Homo sapiens: one gene and its partners. The protein of the gene in region 2 interacts with the protein of the main gene of each other region in a biochemical or structural test. Each region holds a gene or a part of one and is shown on either strand. Other genes may lie near its edges. The genes, in order: SLC9A1, MAP3K14 and ZFP91.

Region 1 (7,798 bases), on a different chromosome or scaffold from region 2:
CTTGGCTGTTCATTGCAACCCCTGGGGTGCTTGTTACATAGAGATTTCTTGGCCCTATCCCAGAGAGTCCAAGTCCAGTATGGCCTGAACATGTGTATTTTCAGAAAGCTCCAGAGGTTAAGAAATGACATTCTAGTTCATTGTGTGAACGTCCCTTTTTTGTGCTGAAGGAGGGACTGAAACCCAGTGATGGGCATGACGTGCCCAAGGTCAGGCAGTGAGAGGCAGACTTGATAGCACCAGATGTGGCTAACACTGCATCAGGTAAGGCTCCGAGCACTTGATTCGCTGATTTAGTCCTCACAGCAGTCCTAAGATTTGGTATTATTATCCTCATTTTATAGACAGGAAAACTGAAACACAGGGAGATGAATTTGCTTCCTGTACACAACTCAGGAGTGGCAGAGCCAGGATTCCAGTCCAGGCAGTTTGGCTTCAGGGTCTTCACAGAGCTTCCCAGGGCCCACCCTTCACCAGTGGGGCACGTGGCTGGCCCAGAGCAAGCCCCTCAGCCCCAGGCTGAGGTTTTGAGCACCTGCTTGGCACTAGGGTTTCTCTGCTACCGTGTGGCCTCTTCTTGTGGCCATGGTTAACGGAGGGGACAGGATTGCCCTGGGTGGACCCCAGGGAACCGTGGGGCCAGGGCCCTCTCCTCCCACCCACCAGCCTGCACACCCTCCCCAGGTCCTGTATCACCTCTTTGAGGAGTTTGCCAACTACGAACACGTGGGCATCGTGGACATCTTCCTCGGCTTCCTGAGCTTCTTCGTGGTGGCCCTGGGCGGGGTGCTTGTGGGCGTGGTCTACGGGGTCATCGCAGCCTTCACCTCCCGATTTACCTCCCACATCCGGGTCATCGAGCCGCTCTTCGTCTTCCTCTACAGCTACATGGCCTACTTGTCAGCCGAGCTCTTCCACCTGTCAGGCATCATGGCGTGAGTCTGCGTGCAGCAGGCAGTGGGCTTGGCGGGGTGGGGGCGGGGGCTGCCAGCTTGGATTCCCCAGGCTCGTAGGTTCACGGAGCTCCCAGGGCCCAGCCTTGAGCTCCAGGGATGAGACATGAACTCCAGGCTCCAGACCTGCTTGGTAGCCATTTAAATGGCCAAGGGCATCAGTGGCTTCCTAGAAGAGGAGCACTTCTGCAGCGCCCCCTGGGGTCCAGGAATCGGGAGAGGGCATTTCAGGCTATGAGCAGATGAAGCAAGAATGACCTGCATGAAGGCAAGCCCAGGGTATAGGAGAGCAGAGCCTTGGAAGCCACTAAGCTTCAGGTTGAGGAAAGCCACAGCCCTGCTACTTCATTGTCTCAAAGGGAGTCCCCTCAGCAGCCCCAGTAGGAGGCTCACCAGGCCTGAGTCCTGGCGGTCCTGAGGTCTCCACCGGGTCTGGAAATGGGGAGAATGGGATGTGGGGAGGCAGTGAGGGGTGAAGGTGTTCCAGTGCCGAGCAAGGCAGAACTGGGGTTCAGAGCCCCTGGCTCCCAGGAGCAGAGCCCGGGTGTGAGCACTGGGCTGGGAGGACTCCGAGCTCCAAGCAGCTGCTTGGAACAAAGCTCCCTGTGGAGACCCCTGTGTAATGGCAGATGCCACGCTTGAGGGGAATGAACCCAGGAGACCATGGGTCTGTGTCATTGACTCCTATTGGGTCAAGAGGCAGTGTGGCCTTGGGGCAAAGGTGCAGGCTTTGGAGTTGGACACTGTGGTTTGTGTGTCTTGGCTTTGCTGCCTGCAGGCAGCGTGACAGGGGAGAGGTGACTATTTCTCTTAGAGTCAGATCTCTCATTTTTTTATTTGAGACGGGGTCCCACTCTTGTCACCCAGGCTGGAATGCAGTGGCACGATCTCAGCTCATTGCAGCCTCTGAGTTCGAGATTCTCCCACTTCAACCTCTCAATTAGGTGGGATTACAGGTGCCCACCACCACACCTGGCTAATTTTTGTATTTTTAGAAGAGACTGCATTTCACTACATTGGCCAAGCTGGTCTCGAATACCTGGCCTCAAGTGATCCGCCTTTGTCGGCCTCCCAAAGTGCTGGGATTACAGGCGTGAGCCACCGTGCCCAGCCAAGATCACTCATTTTAAAAATGGAGGAATAGGGCCGGGCATGCGCTCGTCGCCTGTAATCCCAGCACTTTGGGAGGCCAAGGCGGGTGGATTACAAGGTCAGGAGTTCAAGACCAGCCTGGCCAAGATGGTGAAACCCCGTCTCTACTAAAAATACAAAAAAATTAGCCAGGCGTGGTGGCGGGCACCTGTATTCCCAGCCACTCGGGAGGCTGAGGCAGAGAATTGCTTGAACCCGGGAGGCGGAGGTTGCAGTGAGCCAAGATCGCGCCACTGCTCTCCAGCCTGGGTGACAGAGTGAGACTCGTCTCAAAAAAAAAAAAAAAAAAAAAAATGGAGGAATACACCGTGTCTATAGGGTTGATGTGAGGATGAGTGGCAAGAGGGTGTAAAGCACACAGCGGGCCCCTGGCCCATAGAGGAGCTTGGGACATGGGCACCTTGGTCGTGGCCCCATTGCCCCTGGCAGTGGAGGGGCTCGAGCAGGTGCAGCTCGACACGGAGCCCTGACCCCGCTCTTTCCTGCTCCAGGCTCATAGCCTCAGGAGTGGTGATGCGCCCCTATGTGGAGGCCAACATCTCCCACAAGTCCCACACCACCATCAAATACTTCCTGAAGATGTGGAGCAGCGTCAGCGAGACCCTCATCTTCATCTTCCTCGGCGTCTCCACGGTGGCCGGCTCCCACCACTGGAACTGGACCTTCGTCATCAGCACCCTGCTCTTCTGCCTCATCGCCCGCGTGCTGGGTGAGGGCCAGGGCTGGGGCGGGGTGGGGGTTGTGGTGTGGGGTGTGTGTGGGGGGTGGTGGGCTGTGGTGCTGTGTGTGTGGTGTGTGCAGTGCACTATGTGGAAGGGCCAGGCTATGTGGTGTGTGCATGTGGTGCAGTGTATAAGTATTGTGTGGAGGGGCTGGGCTGTGGTGTGTGTGTGTATGCGTATTGCGTGTGTGGTGTGTGTAGTGCATTGTAGGGGGGCTGGATGTGTGTATGGTGTGTGTGTAGTGTGTGGAGGGGTTGGGGGTGTGTGTGTGTAGTATGTTGTGTGGAGGGCTTTGTATATATGTGTGTGTTGTGTGGAGGGATTGGGCTGTGGTGCAGTGTGTGTATAGTTGTGTGGAGGGGCTGGGTGTATATGTGGAAGGGCTGGGTGTGTGTGTAGGGGTTGGGTGTGTGTAGAGGGGCTGGGTGTGTGTGTGTGTGTGTGGAGGGGCTGTGAGGGTGTGGGTGTGTGTGGAGGGGCTGTGAGGGTGTGGGTGTGTGTGTGTAGAGGGCCTGGGTGTGTGTGTGTGTGTGTGGAGGGGCTGGGGGTATATGTGTGATGCAGTTTGTGGTGGAGGTTTCCTGGTTGGCTCCTGCCTGCTCCCAGCACAGCTAGACAGGAGGGACTTCCCATTTCCATGATGGGCCCTTCAGCAGGGAGAAGCCTGTGTCACAGCAAGGCTGTGGTCTCTGGGGACAGAGTCAGGCTGTGTCAAAGTGAGGGGGCCCTGAGACTCTGAGCCTGTGGCTGTGGCTGTCCTGATGAGGGGCCTGAGGCCCACAGAACCCAGGTCTGTGACTCTGAGCTGAGTGCTCTCTGCACTGTCTCAAGACAGGTGACGTGAGCATGTGCCGAATCGCATGCAGAGCCACGTGCAGTCCTCCAAACCTATGCAGCAGGCCGGGGCACACGTGGGGACCAGGCCCCAGGTGCATGGGTTCCACTCACATGTGCCCCACATGCCTCACCCCAGTGCCTCAGTCGCCTCCTCCCTGGATCTCTCACTTCCTCTCTGAGGGTTAGGTCCATGTCCCCAAGCCTGGCAGGACCTCACATTTATTTGGTGCACTTTTGAAATCCCCTTTATTCCTGAGCCTCATCCTCCAGGGATTCTGGTTCTGTGGGTGGAGGTTGGGCCCAGCCCTCTGCATTTTTTATGCTTTATTATGGAAAATTTCAAGTACTTAGAAAAGTAGAGAGAATAGGATCATGACCCCCCACACACCCATCACATTTAACAAGTATTGACCTGTGACCCATCTTGTTTGATCTTTTCTCCCTCTTCCTGCCCCCAGCCCTCCAGCCACTGGAGGCCTCCATGATGTCTCTAAAGCACATCCAGGTTGGGGAAGTCCTTTAAGGATCCACCCAGCTCTTGGATTGAGGAGTTCAGAGCACTCTGGGCTGAGGGACCCAGGAATTGAGTGAGCGGGGTGGGCTTCGTAATGGAGACTTCCTGGATGCACAGAGAAATCACTGATGCAGAATCCAGGAGGGACTGGGGACAGCCCGACCTGACCCTCATCACCCCCTGCCTTCCCCTGCAGGGGTGCTGGGCCTGACCTGGTTCATCAACAAGTTCCGTATCGTGAAGCTGACCCCCAAGGACCAGTTCATCATCGCCTATGGGGGCCTGCGAGGGGCCATCGCCTTCTCTCTGGGCTACCTCCTGGACAAGAAGCACTTCCCCATGTGTGACCTGTTCCTCACTGCCATCATCACTGTCATCTTCTTCACCGTCTTTGTGCAGGTGCTGGGCCAGGGCAGGGCAGGCCCTTGCCTTGGGGACCCTCACAGGCTGTTCCCGTGGAAAGAGAGGAAAGCGTGTGATTTGAAATGCGATTCTAGTCCCAGCTCCACCACTAACTTGCTGTGTGACCTTGGGCGAGCCACTCCCCCTTTCTGGGCCTCAGTTTCTTCAATCGTAAAGTGAGAATTGTGATGAGTCATTGCAGAGTGACTGATCAGAATGTAAAGGAACCAGAATGCTGCCCAACTTAATTTGGAACTCATAGAGCATTAAGAGAAGTGGGTACTGGCCGGGCACGGTGACTCAACGCCTGTAATCCCAGCACTTTGGGAGGCTGAGGGGGTGGATCACCTGAGGTCAGGAGTTTGAGACCAGCCTGACTAACATGGTGAAACCCCGTCTCTACTAAAAATACAAAATTAGTGGGCATGGTGATGCATACCTGTAATTCCAGCTACTTGGGAGGCTGAGGCAGGAGAATCACTTGAACCCAGGAGGTGGAGGTTGCAGTGAGCTGAGATTGCGCCATTGCACTCCAGCCTGGGTAACAAGAGTGAAATTCCATCTCAAAAAAAAAGAAAAAGAGAGAGAAGTGGGTACAGTCAACAGGCCCAAGATCTCTCTTTGCTACTAACTCATTGTAGGGCTTTAGGCAAGAGATTTCATATCTTAGGGTCTCAGTTTCTGCATCTGTAAAATGGGAATAATATCACAGCATGGGGAACTGGAAAGGGCTATGAGCCAGGCAGCAGGAGGCCTGGAGTCAGCCCTAGCTCTGTGTTGGTGTCCCTCTGACCCTAAGAAAGACCCCCACTCTTCTCTGGGTCTCAGTTCCCATCTGTAAAGTGAGGGAACCAGGCGAGATGATTCCCAAGAATCCTTCCAGCCTGCTGCTCAGTGATTTCTGTACATTTAAACGGCTCAGGCTTAGCTGACAGCCACTCTCCTGCCTAAGGTCCCCAAGGAAGCCCAGCCTGTGATGGTGCAAATTGCTCTGCCTTACCTGACTTTGCCTGACCTTGGGCAAATAAGAAACACTCTGTCTGAGCCTCCATTTCTTTACCATCCTTTCTGTCTTTTCTGGGCACTGATACTCAAAAAGCCCTAGATGGGATACATCTTTGCATTCTCTTGAGAAAAAAAAATAGGGGAAACCTGGGGCTGGGCTTATTTTCTGTCCTTTAAAGGGAGAGGGGACCCTGGTGCAGTGGCTCACGCCTATGATCCCAGGACTTTGGGAGGCCGAGGCAGGAGGATCCCTTGAGCCCAGTAGTTCAAGAGCAGCCTAGGCAACATGGCAACCTTGTCTCTACAAAAAATAAAAAAAAAATTAGTGGGTATGGTGGTACACACCTGTAAGTCCCAGGTACTTGAGAAGCTGAGGTGGGAGGATAGCTTGAGCCCAGGAGATTGAGGCAGCTGTGAGCTGTGATTGAGCCTGTGTGACTCCTCCAGCCTGTGTGACAGAGTGAGACTCTCTCTCGAGTTAAGAAAAAGGAGAGAGGCTGGGCGCGGTGGCTCATGCCTGTAATCCCAGCACTTTGGGAGGCCGAGGCAGGCGGATCGCCTGAGGTCAGGAGTTCCAGACCAGCCTGGCCAACATGGTGAAACCCTGTTTCTACTAAAAATACAAAAATTAGCTGGGCGTGGTGGCAGCCGCCTGTAATCCCAGCTACTTGGGAGGCTGAGGCAGGAGAATCACTTGAACCCGGGAGGTGGAGGTTGCAGTGAGCTGAAATCGCACCACTGCACTCCAGCCTGGGTGACAGAGCAAGACTCCATCTCAAAAAAAAAAAAAAAAAAAAAAAGAGGAGGAGGCTGCCACTTTTGTCCTCTTGCCCTGCTTCCATCTTCAAAAAATTTTTTTTACCTTGATTTTGCAGTTGTATGTGCTAATGATTTTCCAAGCCCATTTTCATTGAAGGCAACATTGGGGAGGGGGCCTCCCTCCAGAGCCAGCCTGCCTGGGTTTAAATCATGGCTTTACTGCTTCTCTGGGATCTTAGAAAGCTGCTTATCCTCTCTGAGCCTCAGTTTCTGCATCTGTTAAATAGAGACAATGGAAGGACCTCCCTCTTAGTGTTGCGGATATTGGAGAGCTGATTGATGCTAGAACACTTCCAAGCACGTGTGTTGGTCACATGGCAGGTGTGCAGTTCCATCTGCTGCTGCTGTTATTACTCGGTCCTCCTCACAGTCCTGGTGGGGAGGCAGTGCAGAGGTAGTTTTCCCTGTGTGTGGGGCCTGACTTCCATGGGGTTGCAGAGCAAGTCTGTGGTGCAGTCCACATCTGAACCCAGGCTGTCTGCTGCCTGGCCCAGGCCAGATGACCAGTGTGGGGGTCATTTGGCAGTGAAACCTCTGACCGTGTCTCCAGGAAGAAGCAGGCCTTAAGGACCTGTCTTTAGATAAGTGCTGGGAGGTGGGAGAGTTCTCACACCCTTGGGTCCTGGGAGAGAGCAGAGCAGAGAGGGCATCCTAGCCTTGGGGGCCTGGGGTGAGGGAGGGAGGCTCTGTGGCCTCCCTGCCTGGGTAGCAGAACTGGAGTGCCTGACACCTGCCTGCCCCCCAGGGCATGACCATTCGGCCCCTGGTAGACCTGTTGGCTGTGAAGAAAAAGCAAGAGACGAAGCGCTCCATCAACGAAGAGATCCACACACAGGTACTGGAGTGCGGGCTGGGCCCTTGGTTGCAGAAGGAGGAACAGGGAGATAGGGAGCAGCTGGGCCTCAAGTCTCTGCCCCCCATCAGCCCCTTCTCCCTGTGCCAGTGCCCAGGGGCTCCCTCTGCCCCAGGAGGCCGCCAGGGTCTAGCCATAGGAAGGTGTGGTGTGAGCAGCTGGGAGCCTGAGGAGGGGGCATCATGCCATCTCTGCCTCCATTTGAAACCTATCCCAGGCATAGGTCCCAGGTGGGATTAGAGAAGGGGGCTCAGCCGGACACAGGCAAGGCTTCGAGATACCCAGAGTCAGGGCCGCTGGGTTCGATGAGTGGAGTGTGGGCGCCACCTCCTGGCTGCTCATGGAACCACAGGGCTGGACCCAGCAGGGCTGCAGCTACGGGAGGGAGTGGGGCTAGTCAGAGGTCTTGGTAGGGAAGGCGCCCCACAGCGAGGCTTGACTTGGCCCTGGGCCCCTTTCAGTTCCTGGACCACCTTCTGACAGGCATCGAAGACATCTGTGGCCACTACGGTCACCACCACTGGAAGGACAAGTAGGTGGC
Region 2 (11,405 bases):
CTTCTCCTGCGGCTCCCAACCTCTGCAGCCTCAACCTCCACCTCCCAGGTCAAGCGATTCTCCTGCCTCAGCCTCCTGAGTAGCTGGGATTACACACGTCAGCCACCACGCCTGGCTAATTTTTGTATTTTTAGTAGAGACGGGGTTTCTCCATGTTGGCCAGGCTGATCCCAAACTCCTGACCTCAAGTGATCTGCCCGCCTTGGCCTCCCAAAGTGTTGGGATTACAGGCATGAGCCACTGCACCTGGCCTCCCTCTCCAATTCTTAACAATTGAGACCCTCCAAGTTTCAGGCCTAAGCCCCTCATTTCTCTACACTCTCTCCCTTGGAGTCCTCATCCACTACTGGCTGTATTGAATCATTCAACAAACAGTAGTTGAGCACCTATTTGGTGCCAGGCACTTGACTAGGCCCTGGTGCCGGAGAGAGATGAATGAGTCATGAGGCCTGGCCTCAACAGGGGAGATGGACATGGTAACGATAGATGTGGAGGGTAGAAGGAATCCCTGCGCTGGTCCCGGGCTGTGTGCTCCCCCATCCAGCCCTCACCTGCTCTGCTCTGCATTGCAAGTGACTGACCCCTCTAGGCTCCCAGGCCAGTAAGAGGCTCTGGCAGGAAACCCAAAGGTAGAAGGGAAGGAGAATGCAGGGATTTCTCCCCATCCCTCTCAGTCTTAGTGGTATCTGTGGAAGTGGTTGTGTCTTCTCTATGGTTTCAACTTCTTCCAAGTGACCCCAGTCCCAGCCTTTGATTACACTGCCCCAGTCCAGTCCCTCCAACCCAGGGGTCGCAGCTGGATTCCTGGTTACTTCCCCCATTGTCTGAAGAACTTCTCCATCCTTTCATCCCCTATGTAACCAATTTCCTGCATTCAATTCTATGTTTATTCTGTTTAAAAACTCAGAGGCCAGGCGAGGTGGCTCACACCTATAATCCCAGCACTTCGGGAGGCCGAGGCGGGTGGATCACCTGAGGTCAAGAGTTCAAGACCAGCCTGGCCAACATGGTGAAACCCCGTCTCTACTAAAAATACAAAAGAATTAGCCGAGTGTGGTGGCAGGCGCCTGTAATCCCAGCTACTCAGGAGGCTGAGACAGGAGAATTGCTTGAACCCGGGAGGTGGAGGTTGCAGTGAGTCAAGATCATGCCACTGCACTCCAGCGTGGGTGACAGAGTGAGACTTCATCTCAAAAATAAATAAATAAATAAAATAAAAATAAAAATTCAGAATGAGGCTGGGCTTAGAGGCTCATGCCTGTAATCCCAGTGCTTTGGGAGGCCAAGGCGGGAGAATCGTTTGAGGCCAGGAGATCAAGATCAGCCTGGGCAACACAGGGAGACCCCTACCTCTATCAAAATTAAAAAAAAAAAAACCCTCAAAATGGGTCCTGTTTTCCTGGCTGGATCCTACCTGACATGATACAGTCTCCCCATCTTCTTGCCACACTTGCAGTGGCTTAAGTCCTCATCTGTTGCTACCTGTTCAAGGAAGCTCCCTAAGGGCAGGGACTGGTCTGGAGGTTCCATGCTTCCTACCCAGAGCCTGACACAGAGGAGCTCAGTGCATCACATTTGTGGCTGGCTGCAGATAAGAAACTGAGACAAGGTCATCTACTAGGAGGCAGTTCATGGAGAGAAGGGCTGGTGAGCAGAAACCAGGCTGTAAGGAGCCCACTTGGGTGGGAGATGAAGCAGACTTTCAAGAAGTTTGGGAGTGAAGGGGGAAAGAAGGCTGGGCTAACAGTGCAGGGGAAAGCCAGAACTAGCAAGGTTTTGTTTGTTTGTTGTTTTTAGGGTGTCCTCGGCTTGACCTCATTTGTAGGTTGAAAGGAAGAAGCGAAAGGAGGGAGATATCGAAGGGCAGGAGATGCTGGGACATTGGGAGTGGAATGACAGGACCTATGCGATCTCTTAGGAAGATTCAATTCACCAGAAGGCTTGAGGATAGTGTGGAGAGGAGACTAGAGGTAAGCAGGTGAGTCTGGAGGGGAAAATCTCCAAATCAGGAAATGAGAAGAATTTGTGTCAAGCCAGGGCACCCTAAGAAGGCTCCAAAGTTGGGAGAGGAGGCTAGATCTCTGGAAGGTGTGCCCAGGACCTGTTCTTGTAAGGTCATCTTTGCCCAGTACCCTCCAGAGTCCCCTACCAGCCCTCACCTCCATTCTTTGCTGAAATTGGCACTCCTCTCCCCCTCACCCACATCGCCATGGCCCCTCCTCTTCTACAGCAGCTCTGTGGTTTGTGGTGCCCCCTGCCATCTCCCTATGTGGGGTTGGTTTGGTGGGCAGCAGGCACAGGCCAGAACCAGCACACAGTGGTGTGCCAGCAGGTGTTTAACAACCAACTCAGGATGGGTAGCCCTGATTTATACTGTTTGCCAACTTCCATGGTATAAATACTCCCAACATGTCCAATTTCAAGCTACCAATATGAGATCACTGATCACAAAATAGCTAGAGAGAATGGATCACACTTTGCCTGCATCCATTTATCCATTTCCCCTCCTGCCTCCCTGGCCTCTCCATAGACCTCAGCTAACAGCAGCAGTAGGGCAGGTCCAAGCTGGGGAGGGCAGCAACAGCACTGTGGCTGCAACTTCAGGCAGTCCCGACAGGGAAAGGAAAACTGCTCTCCTCCAGGAACATCCACCCTACAGTCCCCAGTCATCTCTTATCTCAGCCTCACATCTGAATTCTCAAGTGTAACTTCAGAATCTCACAGTAATTTGGGGCCTGAAATCCACATTCAGATGACTCATCAGCCACTTTCTCACTGGACATGGCTCAGCACCATAAACCATGCTGACTAAGGCAATAAAAACCAGAATATAATTTCCTTTCTTCCAAGGCAAACAGAAAAGGAAAAATGATCCAAGGATAGCATTCCTTCACTGATTTACTCACTCTTCAGCACTGTCCTAGAGAACTGATGGGCAATTGGCTCCCTGAACCCTGAAGTCTCTCTGCAGAGTCCGGCATGCAGGAGGGCAGGGGCTCTGAAGTCAGACATGGTTTGAATCCTGGGTCTCCTGTTACAGCAAAGTGACACTGGGAAAGTTACTTCTGTCTGAGCTTCAGTTTGCTCATCAGTGAAATGGGGACAGTAATACTACCTATTCAATGGGGTCAGACTGTAGGGGTTTTCAACCGGGGGCAATTTTGCTTCCTTGGTGACATCTAGCAATGTCCAGAGACATTTATTGTCACATTGGGTGGATGAGGGAGTGCTATAGGTATGTAGTAGACAGAGGCCAGGAAAGCTTTTAAACATCCTGCAATGCACAAGACAGCCCTGATGTGGTTTGGCTGTGGCCCCACCCAAATCTCACATTGAGGCCAGGCGCAGTGGCTCATGCCTATAATTCCAGCACTTTGGGAGGTTGAGGTGGGTGGATCACTTGAGTTCAAGACCTGCCTGGCTGACGTAGCAAAACCCCATCTCTACTAAAAATATAAAAATTAGCCGGGCATGGTGGTGCACACCTATAGTCCCAGCTACTCAGGAGGCTGAGGCACGAGAATCACTTGAACCCAAGAGGAGGAGGATGCAGTGAGCTGAGGTCGCGCCACTGCACTCCAGCCTGGGTGACACAGGGAGACTCCATCTCAAAAAAAAAAAAAAAAAAAAAAAATCTCATCTTGTAGCTCCCACAATTCCGTGTTGTGCAAGGGACCCAGTGGGAGATAATTGAATCACTGGAGCAGTTTCTCCCATACTGTTCTCATGGTAGTGCGTAAGTCTCATGAAATCTGATGTTTTTGTAAGGGTTTCCCCTTCACTTGGCTCTCATCATTCTCTCTTGTCTGCTGTCATGTAAGACATGCCTTTTGCCTTCTGCCATGATTGTGAGGCCTCCCCAGCCACATGGAACTGTGACTCCATTACACCTCTTTCCTTTATAAATTACCCCATCTCAGCTATGTCTTTATCAGCAGCGTGAAAACAGGCGAATACAAGCCCCGTCCCCCAACAATGAATTATCCAACCCCAAATGTCTATAGTGCCAGGCTGAGAAACCCTGGCCTAGAGGGAACATTCAGTGAGGTTATGCACATGAAGTACTCTAAGTCTATCTGGCTTACTTTTTGTAAAGTATCAGAAAACAAGCTGCGATTCTTTCGGAATAGCACAGTCTTAACGCTATTTCCAGACCTGAAATGGATGGGGTGTGAGAACCCTTGAGTACTGAGAACCTAGTTCACTGCTCCAGGTGTGAGTCATCCTGTAAATGTCAATTTCTTGTATTTAAAGCAGAGCTGAGGCTGCACAAGTGACTCAAGGCCAGAAGCTTTCCCAGGTTGTCTTGACTTAAGCTTGGAGGAAGTAATCTCGTCCCGAAGCTCTCCTTCCAGAGGGTGCAAGCATTTCAAGACTCAGAGACACCACACTGCTCACTCTGGGTAGGTGTATTGTTTCTCACCTCACCCACACACAGTGGGGCTTGGAAAGACCTCAGAAAAGTAGCTGAAACGGAGAGGCCTTGCTTATCCCGAATATCTTCCTTACCAGTGTTTAGTGGTTTGCTCCTCCCCTGCAACCTGATGTGACATTCCTTCTCCAGAGTTACAGTTTTGAGTCAACACAGTTCACTGTCTCTGATTAATACACATTAATGTTCAGGGACGGACTTAAAGACAGATCATCTTGATGGGGTAGGTGGGAGTGTACAGGGGACCCAGGACCAGAGGTGTCAAGGGAACCTGGGCAAAGTACAGAGACACTGGGTGTTTTAAAGAAGGAATAGTGAAAGAGAGAGAAGGCAAAGGCAAGCCAGGGAGTGTCTGCAGACTCTGGAGGTGTGCCCACATCTTTCCTGAGAAGTGGTGTGCCCAGAGGCAAACAGGTGGTGGGAGAGGCAATAAGGGCATCCAAGATTGCCGATACCAACCTGTACATCTGGCCAAGCTCTGCCTTTCCCTGAGTCACTGAAATGCAAAACCCTAGGGGTGGAAAGAGATTTGGGGGCCACCAGTCCAGCTTCTTTCTTGTCTGCCATCTCCCAGCTAGTCAGTGGCAGAGCCAGGGTGGGCGCCAGAGACTGTTTGGCTCTAAAGCACGGACTCTACGGGAGCCACAACCTCAAATGCTCCAGGGGCCAGACAGGTGACATAAGGTTAGATGGTTGGGTGGCGGGAACTGTAAGGAACCGCAGGCTCTGCTCTAAGGCATTCAAATTCAAATTTAAAAAAATATTGGGCCAGCCAAACAAAGCATATTTCTGGCCTGGGTGAGTGAATGAGGCCCTCAGGTTGTGAGTTTTTGACCACTGCCTAAATAAATGGTCTTCCCTATTCCCCAGCAGAGATGACTGTTTGGCACAGATATCCAGAAAGAAGAGTTCAGCTTCGGACTGTCTGCAAAGTAGTCTCAAGCAGATGGTGGTCTTTGCTCAAACACTTCCAGAGATGGGGTGTTCCTTACTTTTCAAGACAGCCTTGGGTGGGGCCTGCCTATCCCCGGACTAGAGCCACTCACCACACCTACCATGGACCCTTCATGGAAGTGGGATGCCCAGGGTAGGAGTACATCTTTTATTTTGCAATAAAAAAAAAAGTTTGGATTTTTTTTTTAAAGGACTGCCTCACTCTGTTACCCAGGCTGGAGTGCAGTGGCACGATCATGGCTCACTGTAACCTCAGACTCTCAGCCTCCCCTCTAGCTGGGACTGCAAGTGCAAACTACCACGCCTGGCTATTCTTTTATTTTTTTGCAAGGACGAGGTCCTTGCTATATTGCCCAGGATGTTCTCCAACTCCTGGCCTCAAGCGATCCTCCTGCCTTTGCCTCCCAAAAGCGCTGGGATTACAGGAGTGAGCCACCGTGCCTGGCCTGGAATTTATTACAAATAAAATACAAGCTCAGTGTGGAAACACTAGATAATACAGAGGGGCAAAAGTTAGAAAAAGTTTCTATACCTTCCCTACTCCCCACCCCCGACCCCCATTCAGAAAGAAGCACTGTTGACACTTCAATGCATATTCTGAACTCCAGGTCCTTTCTTTGCATACATCAAGCTCTCATCCTCTTGCTGGCTCTGTGGTCTGCAAACCCAGAGAGCAGATGCTTTGCTCAGCGCTCGTACCACGCCACGCACCCACATGCTCTCTTTGTACCTGGGTTTCAACCCACAGGTCGGGCCCCTGTAAGCCCTTGGCTCCCCAAGCTTCTCGAGGGCAGGCACTGTAACCTTCTTTACTCATTCCAGGGATTCTACAGGACCAGGCACACGGTAAGAGCTCAATAAAAACGTCTCTACCCCCACCACCTCCCGCCTCAGCCGCCACCGCTTGGCAGCAGAGAGGAAGCGGAACGCGCGCGACCCACGAGGGAGAGCGCCTCGCTGTCTCCAAGGTAACCGAAGTCAGTGGCAGGGAGTGCCCACGCATGCGCACACTCGCCCTTCCTTCCCGTAACCTCGAGAACGCAGCTGGTAAGACTGCCAGAAGCCGAGGGCGCATGTGTGGTTCCACCAACACCCTAGTCGCCTCCGCCTTCTGTCAGTCCGCCCGCCCAGCGATCTCCCTTCTACAAACATCGTCCGGAAATAGTGCCCATTTCTGGAAACCAGGCCTCGTTAACCAATCGTTGCTAGGGAGCGGGAAGACGGGCTTGCCGGGACGACCGTCTCATTGGTTGGCGTAGGGGAGTGGGCGGGGCCACGGGTCGCGGTGCGGCCAAAGAAAGGAGGCGCGAAGCGAGGCAAAGTTACAGCCTCCGGGGGAGGCGTGGCCCCGGGGGCGGCCGAGAAGGCGAGGGGGCGGAGCCCGGGACCGGGGCGGGGCGACCACGGGCCGGGAGCTCAGCGGTCGGCGGCCGGCGGCGGGAGATCGCGGGCGAGCGGAGCGCAACACTCGCTTGGTTGGGGAGATCGGCGCTTGGCCGGTAGGTGACGGGGCGGGACCCTGGGGCCCGGTGCGAGGCGACCAGGGAGCGGCTGGGATGGATCGCCTCTCAGCCCCGGGCTGGGCTGCGGCCTGGCCCCTCGCCCCGGAGCAGTGGGGTCGGCGGCCAGGCCAGCGCAGTCCGACGTACCCCGTCCAACCCACTCGCAGCGGTCCGCGGGCGCGCCCTCGCACGCGCTGCCGGTGCCGCGCTCGCCCCGGGCCTCCAGGCCGCGCACTCCTGCTGGCCACACGCTGGCTCCGAGCGCGCGCAGGGGCCGCCTGCTTCCCCTTCACTAGTGCCCCGCGCCGCCGCCAGGCCCGCCCGCCTGCTCTGCGCCCCAGTGCCCCCAGGATGGAGCTCGCCTGCCGCGGGGCGGACGTGTCTCCTGCAGGAGTGCGCCCTGGCATCTGCCCTGGCGTGAAACCCTCCCGGCCTTTCATGGGAAGTTCTCAGGTCACACCTCAAGGCGGGGAGCAGGAGCTAAGCCTGTCCTCAGCATGCAGCGGGGCAGTGCTGGCCGCCCGCAGCATCCTCCCTCCGCCCTCGGACCCCAGTCCTCCTCTGTAATTCTTCTGGGCTCTCCAACTCGGGACTTTATCTGTCGGTTCAAATATAACATTCCCATCTTGGAAACCCATCGTGGCCCTGGCATCTTGCAGCCACTGGGCACCAGGCAGAGAGGGGCCACTTGTACGTACGTTTCCCACCTGCCCGGGAGCCTCCTTAGTGCTGGGTAGCTTCAGAAAAAGTGTTTCCTTCCTAGTCGAGGTTAAAAAGTTGCTCTCGGCCCTAAAGGGTGGACTGGAGGTATGAATGAGGGAGAGGATAAGTGGTGAAAAGGTACATACATCAGCAAAGTAAATGGTAAAACTACTTTTGATCGCTGGAGACAATGAACACCAATGACTTAATTAAGGACTTTAAAAGCACATGAAATTAAATGATTAGAGTGAGGTCATGATATAAAATAGGAGTCTGGAGTTTATTCCAAGAAAAATGTTGGAAACCCCTTGACTAGAAACATGGTCTTTCTGAAAGATTAGAAGGAGACAGTATCTTAACATTAGTGATGTGTTTTTTGCTTAGTGTCTTCATACCTGTGAGCTCCGTTTTCCTTCAGATGGCTGTGTGGTAAGACAGATTGTAGTGTCTTGTTTTATGGGCGAGGCACCTGAGGCAGGTGTGTATGAGGGAGTGGGGGTGGTATATATCTTGCCTGATGCCTCATAGCTGGGACTAAGGATGGGTCTTTCCCAGAATCCTAGATCAGGACCACATTATAGAACTGAGATGCAGAAAGGAGGGAGAAGTTTTTGGTGTGGTTTTTATGCTCTTAATGTGAGAGGACACTTAAAAAGTGCTTGCCTTACTTTGGTTGTGTTTGGATTTACTCTTGGTGTTTTTTAAGTGATATCAATCAGTTTCTTTGGAGCGATGCCAGACCTCTGAATTTTTCAGACACCTTTCGGACATCCTTATTTATTTTGAAGGGTGTGGAGAACTTCTCAGAAGATCTCAAAATAAAAGTAATCGTCTCTGACTCTAATTTTAGAGATAAGTACCCAGGTATGTGTACCAGCTCTTTGTGAAATCAGACAGCAAGACGCTGCCAAGCTTCAGGCCATCTTCTGAGTGTTTTCTGATTATAAGAAGCAGTTCTGAAGGGGGTTTTTTGTCATTGGTATTGTCTGTTAAGAGTTTGTGGGAGCGGCACCACAGAGACCCTGCCAAATCAGTCTCCCTCTATTAAACAAAAATGTCTGGTTGGGCTGTTTCGCCTCAACAGATGAAGGTTTGGTTCCTCATTTTGGTTCTCCTGTTGAACACTGACTCCTTTGTGATCTGCCTGGAATATGTGTATATCATTTACTGCTGAGAAGATGGCTTGCGCTGATTGGTTGTCCAGCCCTCGGCAACTGTTGTGATTTTTTTTTTTTTTTTGGTGATTGATAACAGTTCATCCCTGGCTAGGGTCTGGTGAGAGATCTGCGGAGATGTGAAAGAGATGAAAGCTTTATCCAGGGTTGTTTTCTTCGTTGTTGGCACCCTCTGAACAGTGTTGTATCACTTTGGCCTGTGAAGGCACTTTTAACTTCCTATTTTTTTTCCTGTCTCAATGGACAGCACATGGGCTTTCCTAACAAGCCTGCCTGCCTCGATGAAGAGCTGACAGATTCATATTGGTTGGTTTGACAGATGTTCTTTCTGGGGGGAAAGTTCAGAAATCTTAAAAGCAAAGTCAGTCCTAAGTAAAAAGTCTAAGTCAGCCCAATACGCATAAAGGCAGCGTACTTCTACTAATGGCTTCCATCATCTCAAGGTTGTTTTTTTTTTTTTCCTGGCAAAAGGTTAAAATGCAACTAAAATTCTGCTTTCGTGATTAATAAGTCACTACCACAGTTGTGTCTGATGCTTCCTGTTTGCCCCATTTTAGTATTTCAGTTAAACTGGAAACATCTGAGCATTATGGGCACTATTGATGGCACCAGTGTGAAATTGGTGGGCCGGGGACAATTCCATGTCAGTGGATTTAGGGAGCTCTAAGGATGTCAGCCCCTCTGGTCTCCACACACCAGGATTCCCTAGTAAGGGAACAGAATGGGGCTGAGCATCTGCAAGAGCTGGGTGGGCATTCAAAGTGATGCATGTGTGAAGGTTTTGCATTTACTCGGTGATGCTGGCTAAAATGCTGAAAGTAGTAGCCCAAAAAGGGAAGGCCAGACGTAGGGCAAATTGTAGGGGAGCATTTCTGTTGAGCTGAGCAGGACATTGAAGTATGAGATTTTTTTGTTCTGGGCTTATGACTGCCTGAATGACAATGCAGAAAAAGTCATTTTTCTTCAGTGGCCGGTGTGCTCTTTGTATTCTAGTTTAAAGGAGCCTCTTCCCTTCTTGCTTTTCTACATGTCTTAATCCCTCAGCTCCCTGATAGAAATCCCTTGAAATTATGTGGCATCAAGAATAATTTTATGGCCAGTCTTTGTATTTTCACACCATACTCATGTGAAGAAGGGCAGGGACAAAGATCAGAAAAGTGAAGCCTCATAAGGAGAAACAGACAGGATTGCTCAGAATCTAAACCCCCTTTTCTTGATATCTAGGTCACTGCTTTTTCTACTACCTTGCTCATGAAACGATAAGGATTTTCTTCCCCCAAACATGTCAATTTTGAACATAACGAAACCAGGGTAGCAGCTTTATTTATTTATTGTACCAATCAATTATTAATTGATATTGATTTTTAATTAATAAAAGGCCAAAAGATGAATAGCCTGCTGCCTGGACAGGTGTGCTTGTGCCCATTTTCCAGATGTAGAAACAAAGGCAGAGAGCCCGTGATTTGTCCAGAGCAACAGAACAAGTCCTTGGTGTCTCCGTGTCACATGTGGTGGCTGAGGCTGTCAGGTCAGAGAGACCTGGGTCAGGTCGAGGTCTGCCACGGCCTGCCTGTGTGCCCGCAAGCAAATCACTTCACTTCTCTAATCATCAGGTGCCTCATCTGTGAATGGGATCAGAAATACTTCATGGGGCTGTTTTGAGTAGAAAATGAGAGGAGATATGTAAAGTGCTGAGCCCAGTGCCCAGCACAGAACATAGAGGCTGTAACTGTTGTTGTTGTTGTTGTTGTTCTTGTTGGTGGTGTTTGGTGGTGGTAGTAATAGTAGTAGTAGTAGTAGTAGTAATAGTAGCAGTAGTAGTTGCCAATTACTGCATTGTGACTAAACCTGTTTTCTGTAAGATGATGTCAAGAAGGGTCAGACTGCCTGACAGGCCAGAGTCATTTTCTCAGTAGGACCTTTAGGGGGACAGTCCTTCAGTCTAAAAGCTTCAGCTCTCGGGTTCTCCCTGTCTTACACTATATACTGCCCTCACCATACTCCAAATGAGGCTACAAAGGTCCAGGCTCTGCCCAGTTGACAATCCTAACTCTGAGCTGGAGACACAGCTAGGCCTGTCTAGGGGCTTCCTGTGTCCCACACGTGATCAAGTAGGTTCCTGCATTAATCCTGGAGGTGAGGAAAGGGAAAATACTGTATGGCATGTAGATCAGCAAGGACTTGTTCTTTGGGGGAACAGGAGGGAACATTTGGTTCTGTGGGATGAGGTTCCCACTACCACATGGCATCCCCAGCTCACCACCCTTTCCCCCTCGTAAAGATGTCTTTGTCAGCTTCTCTCTGAGACTCTGTCTGGGGGCCCACGATCTGCAGTCAAGGACTTGCAGATTCCCCTTTAAATCTCACAAGAAGCCTGGAATGGTGACGTGTGTTTCTTTAGTCCCAGCTACTTGAGAGGCTGAGGCGGGAGGATCACTTGAGCCCAGGAGGTCAAGTAGCTATGGGCAACATAGCGAGACCCCATCTCTTGAAAGAAAAACGTTTGTTTTAATCTCACAAGGGAAAAAAAAAGTTTCATGTTATATTTTAAAGTCTTTTTTCACCTTAATACAAAACAAAAATATAGGCTCTCACCAGGCTACTGTTCCCTTTAAATAACATTTTGTTTTCTCTTGGGGA
Region 3 (8,512 bases), on a different chromosome or scaffold from region 2:
TCAAGTAACGAGGCTTGAATTTAAATAGAAGTCTGATTCTATAGTTGTCTCTCCCACTGACTTTCCAATTTCATTTTCTGTTTAGGTAGTTCACATCTTGTTCAAGAAACAAAGGGTGTGTGAAGTCCTTTAAAAACAGGATTTTTTTCACTCCTAACCTTACGTACTTTTTAAAGGTAATTTAATTTATACTTAAAAATCAAGCAAGGAAGCATCTCTAATTTCAATCACGGTGCCTTCCTGGTAGCTACATAGGAGGAGGAAGGTACTGTTTAGGCCTGTTCTCTTCCAAAGAACAGGAAACACCCAACGCTAACTTGGTAACATTTCTAAAGCAGTCTCACTCAAGTGACAACATGCTTTCCTTTTTTCTCCCCTACCCAGTCATACCACATGCTTCTTAAAATAAGAGAATGAGCTGGGCTTTGAAATGACAGTATAAAAGTTAAAAGGTACTTGGAGGGTTGTCATTCTATTGCATTTAACTTAGAAAATGATGCTTATTGGGTAAGGGCTAAATGAAATAATTAGCTTTCATTATTTATATCATAGATATTGCCAATAAGCTGAAACACATACCATCTTAGAAGCAAATTTATAAAAGTAAACAATAAATGGGAGATGTAACAGAGCAGCCTGGGCAGCTATCACAGCATGGCTTTTGGAAGGCAGAAGGATTATAGTTTTTTCTTTTTTAAAATAAAAATCAGTACTTGATATAAACATTCAATTTTGAGAAGAAGTATTAATATTAAATGCTATCAAGGTTTTGTCATTATCAGGGTAAAATTAACCTCACATAATCCTTAATTTTCCATCTACTAGGTTAATTAACATATGGCCAGTTTTCCTAGGAGGCAGTTGTCAAAACATCAAGATTTCCAAGTTTGCTGAATAACAGAATCATGTCATTTCAGCATTAGAAATCAAGAACAGTCAAAAATTAACCACCTGATTCTCAACAAAAGCAAACAATAGTATGCCCCACATAACACCTGTTCTGAGGGCATTTGGTTTGCTTAGCAGCATCACATGTTTCACCCCTAGGATAACTGTAACTCAGTACAACCAAGGAAGACAAGTTGCTTCCATGAAGACAACTTTTATTTTTCTTCTTTACATATTTATTTTTAATATGCCTTACCTAGAATAAGAGAAAACAAAGATTTGAAAAGCAAAGTATCCCTTTTATTATAATTTCTTTTTACATAACCTTTTCAACCTATATTCAGGTAACTACCTGTCTCTCCCATGAAAGGAGAAGGGTCCTGCACATTACAACAGGCAAAAAAGGCTTTTAAGAAATAAAATATTTTAAATTGATCCATTACATTTGTTCAATTTTCTTGAGTACATTGGAAAGTGGGAAAAACACAAAAGGAGAAAAAAATGGTATTTCAAACAACCAGACTATAATAATCTTAGTTAGATTGGTAGTACACTCATTATACTTTTTCCCCAAACAGGTACAAAGGAGGTTCAAGTGCTCTATGTGGATGCTAGTCTATACCTCGATATTTTTATTTTACTCCCAGTACTCCCACGGCCATGGCCAGTGTTTGCCTAAATTCTCTGAAGCATATCAAGGAGTCTCAGTTACGCAAAACAACCTTGGGCAACCACAAAGAAGAGGGATGCACATCTCCCAGAAATATTAAATAGCTGTATCTCAACTACAGTTTCAGAATTTAGAACCACCAATTCAAGATGGAAATATGCAGTGGGAAGAGTTATTAAAAAGGTAACAGAATTTGACTAAGAGCATGAAATGTAGAACTTTAAGATTAAAAGAGCTCCCTGGAAGGACAATGAGGCATATGGAGCAGAAGGGAAAGCAGGGAAACGGCTGAGATAGTTTAATTACACCAACTCTACTATGCAGCATCCCTTTATCAAAAGGAAAAATATAAAGTCTATAAAAAATATTTTAGTATTGCAAACTGCTGCAATAATTTATTGTAGGCAAATGGTAGCTATAAAGAGGGTCCTTGACCCCTAAAAGAAAAGAAAAAGTACAGCAAGTTTCTAATTAGTAGAACTAACTAGTTGTTTTTTTGTTGGGAGAGCGGTATAGGAAAGGAGAATACATTTTCTCCCATCTCAGAAAGATTTTTAAAAATGCAGTTTGCTTTTGTGTAGGTGGCTAAAATATCTGATGACTAACCACTGCAAATGAAATTTACGGAGACAAAGGATAAGTGTGACAAAAAAGCTAAGTGTGGAATATAGATGCTAGTTAGTCAAAAAGTGTAAAAGGGACCTGAGAGGAGGACAACTTTTTTGTAGATTCATCTAATCAATCTTGTATTTTCAAATCTAGTCAATATACCAAAGTCGACTCCAAACCATGTTGGCAGGAAAGCATATTCTACATCCCTTCTATCTTTATTCCATTTTCTATCCCCATATTATGGAGAAATGGCAAATCTGCAACACTCTGAAAAGAAACAATAGCGCATTTGAGACTGGTGATTGTAGGTGTCTCACTCTCTGTTCCCTGGCATCCCAAATGCTGACACTAGTTGGTATAAAGTAAGCCTCTTTCAGAAATGACATTTTGTTACTCCTCTTTTTGGGAAAAAAGAATTCTTTGAAAAAATTGATAAGCCATGTTTGTGAAACACAAACTGTTCTTTTTTTTTTTTCCAGCAAAACGTCATTCTTTCCAAGAGCCATCATGCATTTCTGACAATAAACAATGAATAGGGTAAGCCTTCGATTCTAGCTTCTGAGGCACACAGGATAGGAATTACTCTTTACCTGAAGATGAGCCAAAATAGGATTTGGGGCTTCTGGCGGTATGACCTTGTACAAAAACACTACCTTTTCTCTCCAGTGAACAGCAATAAGCAATCTATTCCCCAACACAACCTCTATCCCAAGGAAATTGTGATGCCCAGAATTTTAGGTGAAAGCCAAAGCAATTATTATATAGGATTATTAACTTTGGCTATTGAAGTTTTTCCTCTTCAGAAGTGTTACTAAAGGGGAAACAGAGCAGTTTTCTTTGACTTAAAATTTTAGGACTCATAGACTTTGTTCCTTCACTAACAGCAGTGTCCTTCACTAACAGGGAGCTGGAATGAACTGATAAAGCAAAGCAAGAAACAAAAAGCAAGGAGCCAGAGATGGGCCCCAAGGGAAATGTAAGGAAATGGTAGGGACAAAAAAAAAGGAAAAGAAACAAATTCACAAGAAACAATCATCTATCTGTAATTTAGATTCTGAACAACCCTCCTCACCCTCTCAAAATTCTTAAGTTTCAACACTGTAAAAATCTCAAAGAGCATACTAGTTACCATGAACCTAACATTCTTCCCTAAAAAGGCTTCCAAAAAAGCACTAGGCTATTGTAGTGATTTTGTTAGTGCTGAGGACCAGCTTTCTTTAAAAGCCACTGGAGAGCTATGATTTCAGAGGCTGGCTGTGCTTCTTCAACCCTATGTCTTGCCTTCAAAGTACCTGTTATGGAAGGGATCCCATGTCAAAATAATCTAATCTCTCTCTCCCAGCCCCACAAAATATAGCAACAAAGACTCCAAAAAAAAAAAATCAGACTTCCTGTTAATAAATAAGGAATCTCAGGTTCCACAACACAAAAACACACATGTTCAAAGTGCAAATTTCTGCCATTAGCCTGGGACTTTTCTCATCGTCTCACTGATACAGAGCCCTGTCTTACAGTCAAAGAGACTGTAGAGGGCAGCCCCCTCCCTATTGGGAGCCTGCTTCCAAGCAAGTGAGCACCATTGAGAGCCATATGGAGGGTTGGGAGGGGGACTGAGATGCTGGGATCAAAGAAGGGGGAGGTGGTCCCCATATATCCTTCCTTTCTGAAACCCAGGGGGGAATAAAGGAAGAGGGGATGAGAGATGTGTGCTGTTTTAACAGCTCACCCTGCTAAGGGGCCCTAAAGTGCCAAGTCAAGCTGCCAGCCTCCAGAGATTAGAATTCTATGGTATTTGAAGATAAGTGTGCCGCAGGGGGTAGGAGCCAGAACCATAGGGCAGCAGTAGAGGAGGAGAAGGGATTTAGAAGACAGTAATATATGATTAAAAGTTAAAAGCTGATCCAGAGCACATCAGAGTTACAGGTTGGAAAGGGGGATCTGCCGATGAGCAGGAAGTCTGCTGATGGCTGGAACCGAGTATGAGAATAACCCTCACTTTAAGAGCTGCTGCTGCTTCTTTTTTGTCTACCTTTCTGGTAAAGACAACATCAATTTTATAAGGGGAGCAACAGAGGGAGAACAGGGGATGGGGAGGTGGAGGGTGTATGTATGTGTGTGCTGTGATCCACAATGGAAAGAGCAGGCCCTTCAGTTATTTCACTAGATTTTAAATGCTTTAGATTTTTTTTTTGTCCTTTTTAACTTTTAAATACAAAGTCTGAGCTGTCCCATGCCCCAAGTCTTCCTGTCCACTAAGGTCCGGCAGAGTCTGAATCTTCAATCAGAACCTCTGTGGTAGCACCGAGTATATCTGAGTTCATAACCAGCCCTTCAGTGCCTCCACTGCTGCCGCTTCCCACAAAGATCTTCCCATCAGCCATCAGGCTCACCCGTTCCGTCCCACTGCAGTATGACTTTGACATCCCTTCAGCTTCTAACAGTAGGCACTCTCCAGAGGTTGAGTTTCCCAAGGGCTCAGGAAGAAGAGGAAGACCCTGACCATCTGAAGGCTGCGTCAGGGACTCTGGGTTAGTGCCCAAGATATCTGTGCTGGTGATGAGGGCGCCTGCATTGGCAGCCAGAGCTTCTGCAATCAGCACCTCAGGGTGGCTTTTTGCCTTGTGTGCCACTACGCTGTCCTTCTTCTCAAATTTTTTGCCACAGATATTGCAAGAAAACTGGTAGAAGGAGTCTGCATCATGTTTCTTCATGTGCCAATTAAGAGATGCCTTTTGTCGACAAGTAAATCCACAGATCTCACATCTAAGGAGAGGAGAAAAGGAAATGGCTGATCCAACAGAGAAATAAAGAGTGCTCTTATTCAGGATCAGGGTTAGAGTTTAGAGCATATATATACATACACACACACACACACACACACACACACAATAATCAGTAACATACTTCTTTTGAAGGATTGGGAAATGTTACTAGATGGAAAACTAATCTGATCTTCTTCTGTTTGCCTGAAAAACAGAGGGAAACTAAGAAAAAGGCTACTAACTAATGCCCCCAATCAATATCCACTCATTTATTTGATGAAAGTAAACAGCAGTGGCAACTAATATGTTTGTAAAGCGGCAAACCTTCAAGTAGGGCATATATCCTTCTCACCCAGATGTTCACCAGTAAATAATACTCACTGTAATGGCTTCTCGCCAGTGTGAATCATCCGGTGCACTGCCAGATTGTGGGAACTCTTGAAGGCCCGAGCACAATATTCACAGATATAATCCCTTTGATCTATGAAGAAAATACTGTGGTTAGTGTTCTATTTAGATACCCTGTAAATATTTTCCCTTACAGTAAGTAAGCAGATGATGGGGCAGGCAATTTAGAGTAAAAGCAATGCTGTTTTCAATGTATAAACACTTTGGGTAAACAAAATTTAAAAAAGAAAAGTATTGCTTTAAAAAAAATCCAACATTCAGTAGCATAAGGACCTGTTTAAAAAAAAACAAAAACAAACAGAAAAACTAGATAAAAATATAAGAAATGGAATCCTAATCTCAATTTTACCACTAATCCAGGTCTTGGATACCAAGTGGTTAGCAAGTAAACAACTATATTTTCCATATATTTTACTCCTTTAAGGAGTAAACAATTTTTTTCACAGACAATGAAAACTGAATGATTACACAGAAAGAATCTGGCATTCAAACAAAACAAAAACAAAAAACAAGAACTTGGCACTGTATAGAAGAAAACTGATCTAAAGGTAATCATACCCTGTTTCAGGTTTAAAAAATGTTACTCAAGATAAACTTTTCTCAAAAGACTGGAGTTGCTGCTATCAAATATATGTAAATAACACCTGTACTACTTTACCTTATTCTCCTACCCATCTTCTGCACCTTTCAACTACCTCCCTTTGTCACTCACAACACCCTCAACCCCATTATGCAGGATTTCTGATGAATGTGGTAACACGGTGTGGAATCTATGAGGAGGAAAAAGGAGCATTGTACTTATTCATTTCTTTACCGTGTTTGGGAAGCCCGTGCACAAAGAGATGCTCTCTATATATATTTGTTGAATTAATGACCACTACATTTTCTACTCCTTTTGCTTCAAATTACCAGAATTAATGAGAATGAAAACATGAATTTAAGTTAAAAGGTGAACAATATCCAATTTAATCTTATACTCCTTTCCAAACAGCTTAGAGATCACCTGGATAGCTTATTAAATGTATATGCTGATTCAGCAGGTCTGAAGCAGGGCCTGAGATTCTGTATCTCTAATAAGAACCCAAATGATGTCAATGCTGGTTGGTCTGTATTCCATACTTTATATAGCAAGGTCTAAAAACGCACAGTTCTAACTTAGGAAACTCTTAGCATCTCCCAGGTCATGTCCACATTTCCAGTTCCATAGCAGGACAAACCTGTGTGGGGCATCTATTTGCTAAATAAATGACATTTGCAAAAAAAAGTCTGTATATACTAATTTGCAAAAGTAAAACATCATAAATTGTATTAACCAAATATAAATATTTGAAATGGACTGAATTTATAAAAGTTTTTCATACGCTTTTGATATTTAACTAAAACAATCTAAAGTGGCTGTCAGAAACAACTTTTCTATGGCATAAAACAGTATTAACAGGGAGCAGAAGGAACAGAGAAATTGCAGTACCTATCAAGAAACAGAAATAACTGTTACTTGTGGAAATAACTCTGAAGAAACATGGTATAAGAAAACTGTAGACTTTGGAGTGATTAAGATTCAAGTTCAATCCTGGTATTGTGCCAGGCTCTGTGTAGTCAATAGCATTTTATGTTATCTCATTTCATCCCTACAATAACTGATATTGGTATCCTTAATACACAGAGAAGGAAAAGTGAAAAGAGAAGTTAAGTAACTTTCCTACAGTAAATGAAGGAGTTATTTCATTTATCAGTATGACCTTGGGCAGGAGACATATTTCTACAACTAGAATTCCTAGACTTACTCTCTAAGACTGTTGAGAAGGTAATGTGTAATTATCAAGTGTCTGGGACATACTCAGTGGTATGCACCCAATTTGTTCCTATTAGGTACACTGCACTGAGATGGTCAGTGGTTACAAATAAATTGAATTTGAGTCTATTCTATAATACATATTGCAGACACTCAGCAACTCTTTTTGACAGTTCCTATGGGAGTTTACATGCAAATTCAACAGCTAGACTTCACAGTTTCAATAGCAGCAGAGTATTATGCTTCTCCTAAAAACTAGCTATGTGACCATGGGCAGGTTACTTAATCCTGCCAAGCTTCTAGTTTCTTAGCTGTAAAATAAGATCAATATAAACAAATTTAGTGGTGTTGAATAGACTAATTAGCAATAATATACATAACGTATTTAGTCCACAGTTGATACAGAATAAATGCTCAATAGAAGATCATTATCCCGGTCATAGAAGTTCAAGAAGTCAAAGGATAAAAATTCAAAAGTCCTAGTCTGCCCATCCCTTGTAAAATTTGTCTTACTACATTTTATTTTCACACCTTTTCCCCGCACTTGACTATAGAATCTTTTAAGACTTATGTTAGAAAAACGTTATCATTACCAACATGCAAAACTAAAGCACAGTGCAATTACCTACTTGATAAACACATTTTAAAAGTACCTGTATGATGTTTGGCATGTCGCAGAAGTTGCTTCTGAAGCCTGAAGAGTCGTCCACAGGAGGGATGGGGACATACATATTTCTTCTTCAGCAAATGCTGGTATTTAATGTGGTGCTAAAACAGAGAAAGTGAAAGGGGCGAAAAAAAAAAAATTAAGGCTTCCTGAAAGTACTTGTCTTTGCTAAGTCAAAAGTACTGAAGGAAAACCAAATACTTAGATTTCACACATGGATAGTGAGGGAGTATAATAAAGTGGCTAAGAACATAGGTGGAAATACACAGACCTGGTTTCCAATCTGGGTCTGTCATTCACTAGCCTTTGTAATCTTAGGAGACAAATATTTCAAGCTCCAGTTCTCATTTGTAAAATGGAGGTAACAATAACCATCTCAAAGTGTTGTTATGGGGATAAGAGATTATGTATTGTACTGTGCTTTAGAGCAGCAAATGGCACACAGCAGAGGAGGAGCGGCTATTGTTATAACTGAACCACGATCCAGAAGAAGGCCTTCGTGTCATGTTATATTTGTTGCTGAAGATCAAACAGGTATTTCCTAAGCAGTATTTCACTTTCACGTTTCCTGCCAGACCTAAATATAAGTGGTACGTTTACTCATCAAAAATAATAATAATAATCTACTCAAGAAAAATAAAAACAAAACCTCAACTAAAAGTCTTTTATTCATTCTACACAGTACCCAAGAAATCACAGGTTTGAGTTCTAAT

Evidence for each region.
Region 1: the proteins of MAP3K14 (region 2) and SLC9A1 form a complex in vitro, tested with the Homo sapiens proteins (one study listed by BioGRID).
Region 3: the proteins of MAP3K14 (region 2) and ZFP91 form a complex in vitro, tested with the Homo sapiens proteins (one study listed by BioGRID).

What each region holds. Positions count from the first base shown.
Region 1 is NC_000001.11:27,102,664-27,110,461, reverse strand, and holds part of SLC9A1 (sodium/hydrogen exchanger 1), read left to right. Parts: intron 1-684; coding exon 685-935; intron 936-2,596; coding exon 2,597-2,814; intron 2,815-4,374; coding exon 4,375-4,577; intron 4,578-7,149; coding exon 7,150-7,239; intron 7,240-7,718; coding exon 7,719-7,789; intron 7,790-7,798. UniProt on the Homo sapiens protein: Electroneutral Na(+) /H(+) antiporter that extrudes Na(+) in exchange for external protons driven by the inward sodium ion chemical gradient, protecting cells from acidification that occurs from metabolism.
Region 2 is NC_000017.11:45,312,440-45,323,844, reverse strand, and holds the start of MAP3K14 (mitogen-activated protein kinase kinase kinase 14), read left to right. Parts: upstream 1-6,824; 5' UTR 6,825-6,885; intron 6,886-11,405.
Region 3 is NC_000011.10:58,613,617-58,622,128, reverse strand, and holds the end of ZFP91 (E3 ubiquitin-protein ligase ZFP91), read right to left. Parts: intron 7,901-8,512; coding exon 7,786-7,900; intron 5,414-7,785; coding exon 5,314-5,413; intron 4,934-5,313; coding exon 4,423-4,933; 3' UTR 579-4,422; downstream 1-578. UniProt on the Homo sapiens protein: Atypical E3 ubiquitin-protein ligase that mediates 'Lys-63'-linked ubiquitination of MAP3K14/NIK, leading to stabilize and activate MAP3K14/NIK. It thereby acts as an activator of the non-canonical NF-kappa-B2/NFKB2 pathway.